Linked DNA regions of Homo sapiens: region 1 is linked to region 2. A link means that fine-mapping ties the variant in region 2 to the expression of a gene that starts in the linked region. Tissue or cell type: esophagus muscle. Region 2 holds a variant in brackets; the other region holds the start of a gene. All regions are shown on one strand. Distances are between the middles of the regions.

Region 1 (2,926 bases), 160 kb after region 2:
CTATTGGGCTCTTTATAAAAAGAAAAACTAATCACCTTTCACACTTCGTATATTTTTTCAGTTTAATTAATAGATATTTTGAAAGAAAACCATGCTCATGTATAATATTTCAAACAGTACAGCAGACCATAAAGTAAAATGAATAGAGCCCCCATTCCTCTGCCATCTTTAAATTCTGTGGTTAGAAGTAAATACTGCTAACATTGTCTTTTGTATCCTTTCAGGAGTTTTCTATGTACATATCTGTACACATTTTCTTTTTTATCACTTAGCCATTTATCTTGGTTATCTTTCCATATTAGCACATAAAGTGCTACTTTATCCTTCTAAAACATTCTATTGTATGGGTTATTTATCCAATGCTCTTTCGAGAGGGACATTTAACAGGTTTGTAGAGACTGTTAAACGCACAATTCTGTTATGAACATAGATCTCTATTTATCTTTGTATACTTTCCCATACTGACAGAGCAAATTTCTAGCTGGGGCATTTCTCGGTCAAATTGTGTGCAGTTAAATTTTTATAGGTTTTTACCAAAATGACCATCCCCCAACTTGGGTTTTATGACATAAAAAAAACGTGACAGTTTAAGCAGGCTGTTCATACTTTAAAACTCATATTGAATTTCAAGGTGTGATGGTATCAACTTCTGCTTTGTGGGCATAAAATGGCCATTTGCAAAAGAACATTTTATTCTACGTAGATGTATTAGTCCTGGATCAGGCTTACCTTTGCCCACTTATATTTGTAAATCAATAACATGTCTTATCTGTATTTTCCCATGGCTTAATTAAAATAAATGTACTAATGTTTAAAATAATGAATTTGATTACTTCTTTGTTCTAGGCTTTTGCTTGGGTTATTTCTTCTACCTGGACAATCTGCCTTGCTCCAACCTTGCATGTCTAAATTCCACCTACCCTTCATGCTTTATTTAAAATGATACCTTCCCCATCTGAATCATGTTTCCTTCCTCAGAACTTTCAGCACCTCTATTTAACCCTTTTGTAATAAAGCTATACATTTATAAATCCCTGAAAATGATAGCTGTCATTATTAGTAGGCTCTGGATCTCTTCAGTTCTATAAATGTTCTTATCTTTCCCTGTTTGCACTTACCTGCTCCATGGATTAATTTAGTCCAAACTACATATTCAGTATTGTGATACTACTTTTATTTTATTTAAAAAAAATCCACATTTTCATTTTTAACATCAACTAATTAAAATAATATTTTTATCCTAAAGTTCCAGGATTTCCAATACAGCAGAACATGATTTAAAAATATCTGTTTGGAACTTAGCTCATAAACAAATACAGCTTTAAAAACTGCCAGTTAAATCTGAAACATACTGGTGGGAGTAGCATGGATGCTATCATATGCAAGGCCTTTAGGGGGAGGCTAGCAGGGTTGCAGGCTAGCATAGTTGACACGCCATTGGACCTATTTATAGAGCTGAGTTCTTTTTGCAATGTCAACTGTAACATTATACCTATTTTAAGCCTCAGTATCTCAAATGTCAGCCTCTACTAGTCGTACAGTTCTCTCTTATTTGATATCAGAGAGCCCAATGGAGCCTTCTGAAGTACCTAGTCAGATTAGCAAAGATAATTTTTTAGAAGTTCCTAATTTATCTGACTCTCTTTGTGAAGATGAAGAAGTTACTTTCCAACCTGGTTTCTCCCCTCAACCAAGTAGACGAGGTTCTGATTCTTCTGAAGACATATACCTGGATACCCCATCTTCAGGTACTAGAAGAGTTTCATTTGCTGATTCCTTTGGATTCAATCTTGTGTCTGTTAAAGAATTTGATTGCTGGGAATTACCGAGTGCTTCAACCACTTTTGACTTAGGGACGGACATTTTCCACACAGAAGAATATGTTTTAGCCCCACTGTTTGACTTGCCTTCTTCAAAAGAAGATCTTATGCAACAACTCCAAATACAGAAAGCAATACTGGAGTCAACTGAGTCTCTTCTTGGGTCTACAAGTATCAAGGGTATTATTCGAGTTTTGAATGTTTCTTTTGAGAAGTTAGTATATGTAAGAATGTCTTTAGATGACTGGCAGACACATTATGACATTTTAGCAGAATATGTTCCTAATTCATGTGATGGTGAAACTGACCAGTTCTCCTTTAAGATTGTATTGGTTCCTCCTTATCAAAAAGATGGCAGTAAAGTTGAGTTTTGTATACGTTATGAAACTTCTGTTGGTACATTTTGGTCAAATAATAATGGCACAAATTATACATTCATTTGTCAAAAGAAAGAACAAGAGCCGGAGCCTGTAAAACCATGGAAAGAAGTTCCTAACAGACAAATAAAAGGCTGCTTAAAGGTAAAATCAAGGTGAGGATATATCTTACATATTTTATTATTCACAATCTTAAAGTTTTTATGTCATTCTTTATTTCATGTGTTGTAAGAAAGTGACTCTATTTAAAAATATACTGCTTGCTATGTAAAAAACAATGGTGCCAGGCTTTAACAAGGTCAAAGCTATTCAAATAATAGCACTGTGTAACCCTTTCTACAAATGTGAGAAAAAATATGGCTGTAATGCAATAGGTTGGGAGAGAAGTGCACTGTGTATATTACTTGCCTAATGAGTTATAAATTATTCCTGCTCAAACCATGAAATCTAGATTATTCACATATAAAATTATTTACTTTGACATTTAAAGTACTTTTATTTTCAGTCGTTTTTAAATGTCTATGCTTTCCTTTGAAACAGTTTTGATTAACATAAAACTATATTTCAATATGTATCTAGTTCTCAGAAATTTGTAAACTTCTCCCAAAAGCTGCAAAGAACTTCTTCATAACTGTTTTGAGTTATACAGGGATGTTTGAAGTGATACATGTTAATTTAAATTATAAAAGAAATGACCTTAATGATTAACAGAAAGACATAAGTATATCA
Region 2 (2,926 bases):
GGCTGGCCAAGGCCGGAGCCGGCTCCCTCAGCTTGCAGGGAGGTGTGGAGGGAGAGGCGCGAGCGGGAACCGGGGCTGCGCGCGGCGCTTGCGGGCCAGCTGGAGTTCCGGTGGGCCTGGGCTTGGCGGGCCCCGCACTCGGAGCAGCCAGCCGGCCCTGCCGGCCCGGGGCAATGAGGGGCTTAGCACTCAGGTCAGCGGCTGCGGAGGGTGTACTGGGTCCCCCAGCAGTGCCAGCCCACCGGCGCTGCGCTTGATTTCTCGCCGGGCCTTAGCTGCCTTCCCGGCGGGCAGGGCTCGGGACCGCCATGCCTGAGCCTCCCACCCCCTCCGTGGGCTCCTGTGCGGCCAGAGCCTCCCCGACGAGCGCCGCTTCCTGCTCCACGGCGCCCAGTCCTATCGACCACCCAAGGGCTGAGGAGTGCGGGCACACGGCGCGGGACTGGCAGGCAGCTCCACCTACAGCCCCGGTGCCGTATCCACTGGGAGAAGCCAGCTGGGCTCCTGAGTCTGGTGGGACCTTGGAGAACCTTTATATCTAGCTCAGGGATTGTAAATACACCAATCGGCACTCTGTATCTAGCTCAAGGTTTGTAAACACACCAATCAGTACCCTGTGTCTAGCTCAGGGTTTGTGAATGCACCAATCGACACTCTGTATCTAGCTACTCTGGTGGGGCCTTGGAGAACCTTTATGTCCACACTCTGTATCTAGCTAATCTGGTGGGGACGTGGAGAACCTTTGTGTCTAGCTCAGGGATTGTAAACACACCGATCAGTGCCCTGTCAAAACAGACCACTCGGCTCTACCAATCCGCAGGATGTGGGTGGGGCCAGATAAGAGAATAAAAGCAGGCTGCCCCAACCAGCAGTGGCAACTTGCTGGGGTCCCCTTCCACGGTGTGGAAGCTTTGTTCTCTCGCTCTTTACAATAAATCTTGCTACTGCTCACTCTTTGGGTCCACACTGCCTTTATGAGCTGTAACACTCACCCTGAAGGTCTGCAGCTTCACTCCTGAAGCCAGCAAGACCATGAGCCCACCGAGAAGAACGAACAACTCCAGACGCGCCGCCTAAAGAGCTGTAACGCTCACTGCGAAGGTCTGCAGCTTCACTCCTGAGCCAGGGAGACCACGAACCCACCAGAAGGAAGAAACTCCGAACACATCTGAACATCAGAAGGAACAAACTCCGGACACGCAGCCTTTAAGAACTGTAACACTCACCGCGAGGGTCCG[C/T]GGCTTCATTCTTGACGTCAGTGAGACCAAGAACCCACCAATTCCAGGCACAATAGTTCCAGGCTCTGTTATTGTGGCTAATAATATAAGGCCTAGGTGACAGTATGGCACTTCTGAGTTTAAGTTATGAAAGATGGTGGCTTTCATTTAGGTCTCTGGATCTCTCTCTCTATCACTTTATCTGCCAAGCTGCTGTGTTTTAAGCAGCCCTCTAGAGAGACTTTTATGGTAAGGAAGTATAGTATTATACTATCTGGCCAATAGCCAGAGAAGAATTGAGATCTCCCAACAACCATGTGACTGAACTTGGAAGCAGACCCTTCTTTCCCAGCTGAATCTTCTTGAGATGTCTGGAGCCCTGGCTAACAGCTTAATAACCTCAAGAGAGAATCTGGGCAAGAACGACTCAGGTAAGCCATTCCTGGATACCTGACCCTTGAAACTATGAACTAATAAATATTTGTTGATTTAAAGCTGATAAATTTGAGGTTAGTTGTTACACAGCAATAGATAGCGAAAGCAACCATGATAAGAAAAGTTATATTTAAGTTGTAGAATTTCAGGTTTCTTTTAGAATTACCTCCAATCAATATCCTCTAGTAAAACTGGATTTATCTTAAGCGTAGTACAAACATTAAAGATAAAATTACATTTCAGTCTTTACTTTTTATTTTATTTACTGAAAAGAGTGGTATTGCACATTCTGTAATATAAGCAAATAGCGTTTCTACATATGATAAGTACATTTCATTAACTAGCAGGGTATTTGAATACCATTTACAACATTGTTTCTGAAAAAATGCATTCCAAGTTTTGGGCTTGCTATATAATCCATTTTTACTTGTCAACTTCCTATATATGTCTATCAAAAAAATAATATAGAAAAAAACATTTTAGGCTTTGATTACCTTGACAGGATAACTGTCAGTCTTGTCTTAGGTAAATGAGTAAAAACAATCTATAAACTGAGAAAGACTACTTTCCTAGTTCATATTTAAACATAAGAAACAATCATTGTCTCCTGAGATTTTTCTAATTAGGTTATAGCACAGTTACAGTAGTTCAATGGAGAATGTCAAGGCAAGTTCTAAATTAGTTTAGCAAAAATTAACAAATCAATAAATTTTTAAACTCAAATTACAATAAACATACTAAGACAATGGGTTGCCTAATCTGTTAATAAATATGCTTCTGTCTTCATAATATATTATAAAAACAAAAAATAATTTTATGCCTAGATAATTTTTTGAAAAGTTTAAGTCGTGGAAAGCCATAGAAAGCCATTTATGGATCCTGATCATATTGATTATGTAATCAATTTTAATAATAGCAAGATTGTCTTGTGATTTAAACAAACTAGTAAAGTTAAATAGGCATATAAAATAATTTCCATAACAGGAATATACAATGTGAGCACATTATTTAGTTATTTTGATAATATTCATAGGGTAACTATGAATGGCAAGTACATTGTTGAGTTTACTTCAAGACTATTATACAGAATATTATTAGTGCTTTTATGATCATAAATATAGTTCCTGTCATAAGAATATATGATGTGCATTAGATAAATTTCTGCTAAAGCGCGATTTCATTTCCGTAGCCAAAGAGTCTTACATTTTCTGACTTTTTTTTTGAAGTTAAAAAAATTCTTTTTATTACTTCTATGATCCTTTGTCCATCATGTT

What was found. PIP is the estimated chance that this variant, and not a neighbour inherited with it, causes the effect.
Region 1: it holds the start of PPP1R3A, and the variant in region 2 is the best candidate, but not a certain one, in a credible set for the expression of PPP1R3A in esophagus muscle (GTEx, PIP 0.82).

The regions. Positions count from the first base shown.
Region 1 is chr7:113,917,641-113,920,566 of GRCh38, reverse strand. It overlaps PPP1R3A (protein phosphatase 1 regulatory subunit 3A), which reads left to right and starts at 1,558. Exons shown (of 4, transcript NM_002711.4): 1 at 1,558-2,352. The coding sequence starts at 1,571.
Region 2 is chr7:114,074,348-114,077,273 of GRCh38, reverse strand. No RefSeq gene overlaps it. Among named protein-coding and RNA genes, the nearest start is that of PPP1R3A, 160 kb to the right of the region's middle. The variant C/T (reference allele first, on the strand shown) is at 1,239.